Linked DNA regions of Homo sapiens: region 1 is linked to region 2. The links come from fine-mapping of genetic effects on gene expression. A gene starts in region 2. The other region holds a variant in brackets. All regions are shown on one strand. Distances are between the middles of the regions.

Region 1 (5,254 bases), 22 kb before region 2:
CTCCCAATATCGCAGGGGGTATACACCCCACCTATGATATTATTTCTAATATCCATGGGAAAAGAGTATGATATTACACCCAATGTCGCAGAGGGTGTGTATTTTTCCTGTGATATTGTTTCTAATATTCAGGCGGGGAGAAGATGATATTACTCTCAATATAGCAGAAATTGTACATCCCCGCTGTGATATTCTTCATAATAATCAGGGAAAAAGAGGATGATATTACTACCAATATTGCAGGGGGGTTACACTTCCCCTATGGTAGTGTTCCTAATATCCAGGAAGAAAGAGGATGATATTAATCCCATTATCCAGGAAGTGTACACCCACCCTGTCATGTTGTTCCTAATATCCAGCAGGGAAGAGGATGATATTACACCCCCCCCCCCGTGATATTCTCCTTAATATCCAGGAGGGGAGAGGCTGATATTACTGGATATATAGCAGGGGTGTTCATACCTTCTGTGATATTGTTCCTAATATCCAGAAAAGGAGAGGATGATATTACTTCCAATATCGCAGAAGGTGTACACCTCCCTGTGATATTGATCCTGACATTCAGAAGGGGAGAGGATGATATTACTCAAAATACCGCAGGGCATGTGCATTCCCTTGTGATATTGTTCCTAATACCCAGAAGGGAACAGGATAATATTACTTTCAATATCGCAGGGAGTGCACACCCCCCTTTGGTATGGTTCTTAATATCCAGAAGGAAAGAGGGTGCTATTACTTTCCATATTGCAAGGGGTGTACACCCCACTGTGGTATGGTTCATAATATCCAGGCAGGGAGAGGGTGCTATTACTCCCCACAGTGCGGGGCATGTACACCCTGCTGCGGTACGGTTCCTAATATCCAGGGGGAGAGAGGATGCTATGACTCCCTATATCGCGGGGTGTGTACACCCCTGTGTGGTATGTTTTGTATTCTCCAGGAACGGAGAGGGTGTTGTTACCCCTCATATCGCTGGAAATGTACACTCCCCTGTGGTATGGTTCGTAATATCCAGGGGATTGAGGGTACTGTTACCCCCATACTCCCCATATCGTGGGGGGAGTGCACCTCCCTGTGGTATGGTTCGAAATATCCAGGGTAAGAGAGGGTGCTATTATTCCCCATTTTGCAGGAGGCGTACACCCCCCTATGGTATGGTTCGTAATATCCGGGGTGAGGGGATGCTATCAAAAGAAGAGAGAAAGAGACCCCCCATATTGTTCTATATTATTTTATACTCAGTACCTGTTTTAAGAAGAAACAAGGAAGTGAAACCAAAAGCAGGCAGCCCGGCGCCAGGCACCAGACCCAAAACCAGACCCGAAACCAGGCCTGGGCCTGCCTGACCTTAGCCTGATAGTTAAAATTCAACCCATGACCTAGCAACCAATGTTATCCATAGATTCCAGACATTGTATGGAAGGACATTGTGAAATTTCTTGTTCTGTGCTGTTTCACTCTGATTACCGGTGCCTGCAGCCCCTGTCACATACCCACTAGATTGCTCAATCAATCATGGCCCTTTCATGTAAGATCTTTAGTGTTGTGAGCCCTTAAAAAGGACAGAAATTGTGCACTCAACAAGCTCGGATTTTGAGACGCTAGTCTTTCGATGCTTCCAGCTGATTAAAAGCCACTTCCTTCACTACCTCGGTGTCTGTGGGGTTTTGTCCGCGACTCCTCCTGCTACACTATGACTCCCCATATCAAGGGGGGTGTACACCCCCCTGTGGTTCGTAATATCCAGCAGGGGAAAAGGTGCTATTACTCCCCATATTGCAGGGAGTGTACACCCCCTTGTAGTATGGATCGTAAAATCAAGGGGGGAGGGAAGGTGTAATTATCCCCATATCTCAGGGGGTGTACACCCCTTTGTGGTAAAGTTTGTAATATCCAGGGATATTACAGGGATATTATCCCCAAATTAATACTTTTATAATTTCTTATGCCTGCCTTTACTGCAATCTCTGAACATAAATTGTGAAGATTTCATGGACATTTATCACTTCCCCAATCAATACTTTTATAATTTCCTATGCCTGTCTTTACTTTAATCTCTTAATCTCATCATCTTTGTGAGCTGAGGATGTATGTCGCCTCAGGACCCTGTGATGATTGCATTAACTCCACAAATTGTTTATAAAACATGTGTATTTGAACAATATGAAATCTGGGCACCCTGAAAAAGAACAGGATAAGAGCGATGTTCAGC[G/A]AACAAGGGAGATAAGCATAAGGTCTGACTGCCTGTGGGGCTGGGCAGAACAGAGTCACATTTTTCTTATTGCAGAAAATGAGTAGGAGAAATATCACTGGGAAGGGAACGCATTCCTAGGGGAGGCCTATGGACGGCCGCTCTGGGGGTGTATCCCTTATGTGGTTGAAGATAAGGGATGAAATACACCCTGGTCCCCTGCAGTGCCCTCAGGCTTGCTAGGATTAGAAATTCCAGCCTGGCGAATTCTAGTCAGACCAGTTCTCTGCTCTTGAACCCCGTTTCCTGTTAAGATGTTTATCAATGACAATGCGTGCACAGCAGGACATGGAACCTCAATAGTAATTCCATTTTCTCCCTGGCCTTGTGACCTTGCTAGGCCCTTCTGCCCTTGTGATCTTTTATTGCCATTTGAAGCATGTGATCTCTGTGACCCACTCCCTATTCGTATCCCCCTCCCCTTTTGAAGTCCCTAATAAAAACTTGCTGGTTTTGCAGATCAGGTGGTCATCACAGAACCTGCCGATATGTGATGTCACCCCGGAGGCTCAGCTGTAAAATTTCTCTTTCGTACTCTTTCACTTTATTTCTCAGACCAGGTGACACTTAAGGAAAATAGAAAAGAACCTACTTTGAAATATTGGGGGCTAGTTCCCCCAATAGACATTGTTCCTAATATCCAGAAAAAAAGAAGATGATATTACTCCCAATATCACAGGGGTTGTGAACCCCACCTGTGATATGGTTCCTAATATCCAGGAAGGGAGAGAATGATATTACTCTCCATATTGCAGGGGGTGTGCACATCCCTGTGATATTGTTCCTAATATCCAGGGGAGGAGAGGGTGATATTACTCCCAATATTGCAAGGGTTGTAAACTCCACCCTGTAATATTGCTCCTAATATTTAGGATTTAGGGGGGGAGAGGATAATATTACTCCCAATATCGCAGGGGATGTATATGCCCTCTTTGATATTGTTCCTAATATCCAGGGGGGGAGAGGATAATATTACTTTCCATATCACAAAGAGTGTTCACCCCCCTGTGATATTGTTCCTAATATCCAAAAAGGAAGAGGATGATATCAATCCCAATATCACAGGAAGTGTACACCCCCCCCTTTTATATTGTTTCTAATATCCAGGGGAAATGAGGGTGATATTTCTCTCAATATAGCAGAATGGGTACACTCCCCCTGGGATATTATTCCTAATATCCAGGGGAAAAAAAGAGGTTGATATTCTTCCCAGTATAGCAGGGAATGAATACACCCTTTGTGATATTGCTTCTAATATCAAGGGGAAAAGAGGATGATATGACTCCCAATATCACAGGGGATGTAAACCTGTGGCGTTGTTGCTAATATCAAGGAGGGAAGAGTATGATATTACTCCTAATGTCGCCGAAGGTGCACACTTTCCCTGTGATATTGTTCCTAATATCCAAAAGGGAAGAGAATGATATTACCCCCAGTATTGCAGGGTGTACACCACCCCTGTGATATTGCTCCTAATACCCAGGAAAAAAGAGAATGCTATTACCCCCAATATCTAAGGGGACGTATACCTTCCCTGTGATATTGTTTCTAATATCCAAGTGGGGAGAGGATGGTTTTACTCTCAATATTGCAGGGAGTGTACACTCCCCCTGTGATACTGTTTCTAATACTCGGGCTGGGAGAAATAGTATTACTCCCAATATCGCAGTGATATTGTTTCCCTGTGATATTGTTTCTAATATCTAGTGGGGGAGATAATTATATTACTACCCCATACACAGGGGAGGGTGTACATTCCCCTGTGATATTGTTTGTAATATCCAGGGAAGGAGAGGATGTTACTCCCAATATCACAGGGGTTGTACACCCCTTTTTTGATATTGTTCCTAATATCTGGGGGGCAGAGAATTATATTACTGTCAATATCACAGAGTGTGTACACCCCCTCTGTTATATTACTCTTTATATTCAGGGCGGTAGAGGATGATATTACTCCCTATATCACAGGGGGTGTTCACCCCTCCTGTGATATTGTTTATAATATCTAAGGGGAAAGAGGATGATATCACTCTCAATATCAAAGGAAATGTACACCTTTCCTGTGATATTGTTTTTATTATATAGGGGGGCAGAGGATGATATTAAGAACAATACCACAGGGGATGTACACCCACGTATTGATATTGTCCCTAATATGTATGGGGAAAGAGGACAGTGTAACTCCCGATATCGCAGAGTGTGTACACCCCCTTGTGATATTGTTTCTGATATACACGGGGAGAAAAGATAATATTTCTTCCAAAATTGCAGGGGGTGTACAACCCCCTGTGATATTGTTTTTAATATCCAGTGGGGGAGAGAATATTACTCCCAATATTGCAGGGCGTGTACACAACCCCTGTGATATTGTTCCTAATATCCAGAGTAGGGGAGGATGACATTACTTTCAATATCGCAAGGGGTGTACATTCCCCTGTGATATTGCTCCTAATATCCATGAGGGGAGAGGATGATATTATTCCTAATATGGCAGGGGCTGTACACCTTCCCTGTGATATTGTTTCTAACATCCAGTGGGGGAGAAAATGATATTACTCCCTATATCACAGAAGGTGTACACTTTCCCTGTGATATTGTTCCTAATATCCAGAAGGGGAGAGGATAATATTACTCCCAATATCGCAGGAAGCTTACAACTCCCCTGTGATATTGTTTCTAATATCCAGGGAGGTAGGGATGATATTACTCCCAATATCGCAGGGGATGTACACTCCCCCGTGACATTGTTTCTAATAACCAGGGGGTGAGAGGATGATATTACGCTTAATACCGAAGGGGGTGTACACACCCTTGTGATATTGTGCCTAATAGCCAGGGGGAAGAAAATTATATTAATTTTAATATTTATGGGGAAAAAGGATGATATTACTCCCAATATCACAGGGGCTGTACACCGACCTTTTGATATTGTTTTTAATATCCAGAAGAGAAGAGGATAATATTGCTCCCAATATCAGAAAAGGTGTAAACCCCTTCTGTGAT
Region 2 (5,504 bases):
GAGAGTAAAGGGCAGAGGGAGTGGGATGGGGGTTCCTGGGAAAGGTATCCCAAAGTCCACTCTTCAGAGAGAATCAGCTGGCCTTGTGCTTTTCTTTTTCCTTCTGAAGTCTAACCTCAACTCTGCTCACAGGGTTCAAACATAGCCTCTTGCAGAGGTCTAACTCCACCCTTCCCTGCCTGTCTCAGGCCTGACCCCTCAGGGGCGCTCAGTGTCTGTAGATGCCTGGCACCCTCTGTCCTTCCACCTGCCCCCCACCACCACTTCTCCAGCCTCTCCTCAGCCTCCATTTGACCTCTGGCTTGCCCATAGCTTGGTCCTTGCTTGTCCTCTTGGCACGGGTCATCCTAGGGCTTTCCCACCAGTGTGCCTTTGGGGGCAGGAATGGCTCCCAGGGGCACCAAGACAGCAATCCCTTAGCTGGAGTGCCTGTGTCCAGGCTGCTGGCCTAGGGCCAAGCAGCCAATTCTGCTGACCCTGGACTTGCCTATGGGTATATTATCCCTGTTGAGGGTGAGGGCTTCTGCTGTGGAAAAGTCTGGGAAGCACTGCAGGCCTCTCTCGGCCTTGGACCCTTCCTTCAGACCCAAGGTGCATATATATACATATATATAATGGTAGATCACGAGGTCAGGAGATCAAGACCATCCTGGCCACATGGTGAAACCCCGTCTCTAGTAAAACACAAAAAATTAGCCGGGCATGCTGCCGCGTGCCTGTAGTCCCAGCTACTCGGGAGGCTGAGGCAGGAGAATGGTGTGAACCCAGGAGGTGGAGGTTGCAGTAAGCCAAGATCACGCCACTGCATTCCAGCCTGGCGACAGAGCAAGACTCCATCTTAAAATAAACAAATGAACAATATATATATATATGTATTTTGTTTTTTGAGACAGAGTCTCGCTCTGTCATCCAGGCTGGACTGCAGTGGTGCAATCTTGGCTCACTGCAACCTCCGCCTCCCGGGTTCAAGCGATTCCCCTGCCTCAGCCTCCTGAACAGCTGGGGTTACAGGTGCACGCCACCACACCTGGCGAATTTTTGTATGTTTAGTGGAGACGGGGTTTCACCATGTTAGCCAGGCTGGTCTCAAACCCCTGACCTCAGGTGATCTGCCCACCTCGGCCTCCCAAAGTGCTGGGATTACAGGCGTGAGCCAACGCGCCCAGCCCCAAGTCCCTTTTACCATAGAAAGTAACATAGTCACAGTGCCCAGGGATTCACAGGTATGGGGAGAGGGTTCGTTATTCAGCTGCCACACCCACCTTCCTAAACCTGCTGCCCTTCCAGTTTCCTCACGTGCACAGCCACGCCCGTCTGCTTTTAGTTTCTCAATCTGTTGGCTTAACCTTCAAAACAGGCCCAGGATTTGAGCACTTCTCACCATTCCCTCTGCCCCATCCCCATTCATCTCTTGCCTAGACTGCTACAGCAGCCTCTTTTACTGGTCCCCTGCATCCACCCTTGCCCTCTAAGGCAAGGGTCCCCAGTCCCTGGGCCAAGGACCAGTACCAGCCCCTCGCCTGCTAGGAACTGGGCCGCACAGCAAGAGATGAGCAGCGGGTAAGTGAGCATTACCGCCTGAGCTCCGCCTCCTGTCACATCAGCAGTGGCATTAGATTCTCATAGGAGGCAAACCCTATTGTGAACTGTGCGTGCGGGGGATCTAGGTTGCCTGCTCCTTATGAGAATCTAATGCCTGATGATCTCAGGTGGAACAGTTTCATCCCAAAACCATCCCCACCCCACCCCCGACCCCCAGTCTATGGAAAAATTGTCCTCCACGAAACCAGTCCCTGGTAACAAAACGGTTAGGGACCGCTGCTCTAAGGTACATTCTCCACCTGGCAGAAATAATCTTTACAAAATGTAAATCCGATTTTGACACTCCCTTCTTCCCACTGTGAATAGAATAAAACCCTACCAGGCCTGCACCGTCAGCCCCTGCCCACCTCTCAACCCAGTCTCCTATCTCTGTCTGCAAGCTGGTTCCCACCTCAAGGCCTCTCTGCTCTAGAGGCTACCTCTCCCTGCAGCGCTTTTCCCCTAGATCTTTGAATGGCTCTTTCCTTATCATTCACTTCTACTTCAATGTCACCTCTTCAGAGAGGCCTTTGCTGATGGCCCTACACCCAGTCACTTTTTTTTATCTGCTTCTCATCAAAATTGCCTTGCTGATTCCTTTGTTTCTTATTCATCCTCTCCCACATCCATCCTCTCCCAGCCCAGAATGTTGACTTCCTGAGAGAGGGACTGGGTCTGTCCTGCTCACCATGGTAACCTCGGCATCTAGAACAGTGCCTGCCATCACGTGGTAGGTGCTCAGTAAATATTCTTGGAACTAATGAATGAATAATTCTATCCACAAGACTTCACAATGGCTCTTCATGCTGCGATCTAGCTTTCAACTCCAAACTGGTCTTGAGATCTCACCTCAGTCTCTAACCTTGACATCTAACCTCTTCACCCACTCTCTTACCTGACCCTAATTTTTAAAAATGACGTGGTCAGCTTTTCAGCCCCCTCATTCCCTGTTTTTAGGAGGTAGTGAGTGGAAGCTGGAAGAATAAGAAAGCTTGGGGAGACTGCAATTGCAGTCAGGAAAGAAAGGTACTCTGCCGGGAAGAACACCCCATCTTCTCCTAGGGAAAGATTGTGGAGTCCTGGGGTTTGTTTTGTTTTTCAATTTTTTGTTTTAAGAGACAGCGTCTCGCTCTGTCACCCAGGCTGGAGTGCAGTGGCGCAATCACAGCTCACTGCAACTTCGACCTCCCCGGCTCAAGTGATCCCCCCGCCTCAGCCTCGTGAGTAGCTGGGACCACAGGCGTGCACCACCACGCCCGGCTAACATTTTATTTTTTGTGGATATAAGGTTGCCCTATTTCTTTGTGGAGATAAAGGCTCCCCTATGTTGCCCAGGCTGGTCTCGAACTCCTGGCTTCAAGCGATGCTTTCGCCTCGGCCTCCACAAAGTGCTGGGTTCACAGGTGCGTGAGCCCGACCTGTGTCTCGTTTTGAAGCTCAGGGAGAGGGCGCTGTGAGCAATCCCTAAACCCTTTAAGAGTAAAAAGTGCGTGCACCTTTAAGAGGACGGTTAGAAAACGCGGGGCGTGGCCACAGGAGAATAAGTTCGCGCTGAACCAGGAGCGTGGGATAAGACCGGCCCCTTCCGGTTACGAAACCTTAGCAAGATGGCGGCTCCCTGGGCGGTAAGTGACCGGAGTTCCTAGAGCCCCAAATTTGAAGTCCGCTCTACAGCCTCCGCATTCAGGGCCTCTGTTGGCGGCCACGAGAGCAGAAAGCCGTGAGGCAGCAGGCTAAGCCTGGCAAGCCCCGTACTGGGAGTGCAAACCTGTGGCTAGTGGGGGCCAGGAAGGATCTGTGAGGGTCGCAGGCGGAGGAGACGCTTTAGCGAGCGAGAGGAGGCAGGGACTTGGCTGAGAGTATCCAATGGGGATGAGGGAGTGGCTGCCGAAGAGCGACGCGACTAACCAATCAGAGGGAGGGATGACACAAGGAGCTAATGGACAGGCAAGGGTGGGGCCTGTAGGATAAGAGAGCTTGGAAGGGATTGTTCGAGGATGTGGGATTTGGTCTTAGAAGACCGAAGGATGAATGTAAGGAAAGTTAGTGGGAGATTGACGAATTTTTACAGAAAACTCAAAAGCATGATGGGTGGGGGAACCAAGAGGTCAATTTGGAGGTTCTAAGGGCATGATCTGGGTGAAATTAAGAGGAGAATTTGAGATATTCTTTCAGAGGATTTAAAATCAAGGAATGAATTTAGGGAAAATTAAAGAGGTTGGCAGCTTTAAACTTTTGAGGAAAATAAGGGTTTGGGTAAAATTATCGAGATAATTTGAAAAAAAAAAAGAATTTGGTTAAAGCAAAGAGAAATTGGGGTAGATTAAGAGGAGACCTTGAAAGCAAAATTGAAGAGTTTGGGGGCTTCTTCCCATTGGCCACACCCCTCGACTTTCTTACTCTCCTCTTCAAAGCTCATGCTTTTTATACCCTTCTCGGTTCAGGGGTGTCCAATCTTTTGGCTTCCCTGGGCCACGCTGTTCGAAGAAGAAGAATTGTCTTGGGCCACACATAAAATACACTAACCATAACTGATGAGCCAAAAAAAAAAAAAAAAAAATCACAAAAATATCCTCCTAATGTTTTAAGAAAGTTTGCATGTTTGTGTTGGGCTGCATGCAGGCGGCGGGTTGGACAAGCTTGGTTGGTTTTAGGGATTGCTCAGAGCACCCTCTCCTTGAGGTTTGGAGATAAGTTTTTAAGATTATATTCTGGGGAAAGAAAGAAGTCATTTGGGAAGACCCCAGCAGAAGAATTGGGTAATTAAGGGGCAAATCTGTGGAAAATTAAGAGGTCAAATAATGCAGGTTTTGAGTGATAAGGGTTTGGGGGAAAGTTAGAGGAAGAATTTAGGAAAATCAACAATATATGGCTAGTCGAGAAAATTTAGGGTTCACTAAGGGGAGGAGGAACTTGGAAAAAACATGGGGAAATTTTTGGAATCTCAAAGACAGTTTTGAAGTTTTGAAGGAAGAACTTAGGGTGAGTTGGGAAGCAGAGGGATTGAGGTTCATGGAGCAAGAACTGGGGGATCCAGCTCTGTGTCTCCCAGGAGGCTCCAGGCTCAGCTCCTTTCCTCTCCCCCTCCCCAGTCCCTGCGCCTGGTCGCCCCCATGTGGAATGGGCGTATCAGGGGCATCCATCGCCTGGGTGCGGCAGTGGCCCCAGAGGGCAATCAGAAGAAGAAAAGGACAATACTCCAGTTCCTGACCAACTATTTCTACGATGTGGAGGCTCTGAGGGATTACTTGCTCCAAAGGGAGATGTACAAGGTGCATGAGAAAAATCGGTGAGAATCCCTGGTCTGCAAGACCCTGTGGAGACCCTGGCCCACCAGAGCCCAGGTCCTGTCCTTGCCATTCCCAGGCAGCACTGTGGCTTCCAGTGCCAGCCTTGATGTCTCTTGCAGCTCCATCTCCAGGCTGTACCCTTCTCAAGGACTCCAGCTCACATAGGCAGTTTGCCACCCACCAGCTCCACTCAGAGTCTAACTGGCATCTCAAACCTAACATGGCTAAAGCCAAACCCTGATTTCTCCCCTAAAAACATCTGCTCACTCCCAAGCCTTCCCATCCCAGTAAACACTGGTGCTGCCCACCCAGTTGTTCAGGCCAAATTCTAAGGAGTCATCCCTAATTCCTCTCTTTGCTTCCCTGCCCTCCACATCCAGACCATCAATAAAATACTAGAATATCTCAGATTTGACCAGTTCTCACTGCCTTCACCATTCGTAGCCTGATCCCTTATAGTTGAATCACTCAATAAGCTAACTGGGTTTTTGTTCCCATACTCTTTTTTTTTTTTTTCTGAGATGGAGTCTTGCTCTGTCTCCCAGCCTGGAGTGTAGTGGCGCAATCTAAGCTCACTGCAACCTCCACCTCCCAGGTTCAAGCAATTCTCCTGCCTCCGCCTCCCAAGTAGCT

Evidence for each region. PIP is the estimated chance that this variant, and not a neighbour inherited with it, causes the effect.
Region 1: its variant is fine-mapped to the expression of DMAC2 in whole blood (TOPMed, PIP 0.98).

Annotation. Positions count from the first base shown.
Region 1 is chr19:41,459,868-41,465,121 of GRCh38, reverse strand. All of the region lies in intron 2 of PCAT19 (prostate cancer associated transcript 19), which reads left to right. Among named protein-coding and RNA genes, the nearest start is that of ERICH4, 19 kb to the right of the region's middle. The variant G/A (reference allele first, on the strand shown) is at 2,213.
Region 2 is chr19:41,437,584-41,443,087 of GRCh38, reverse strand. DMAC2 (distal membrane arm assembly component 2) reads left to right here and starts at 3,176. Exons shown (of 6, transcript NM_018035.3): 1 at 3,176-3,206; 2 at 4,674-4,870. The coding sequence starts at 3,189. RefSeq lists an enhancer at 3,272-3,441.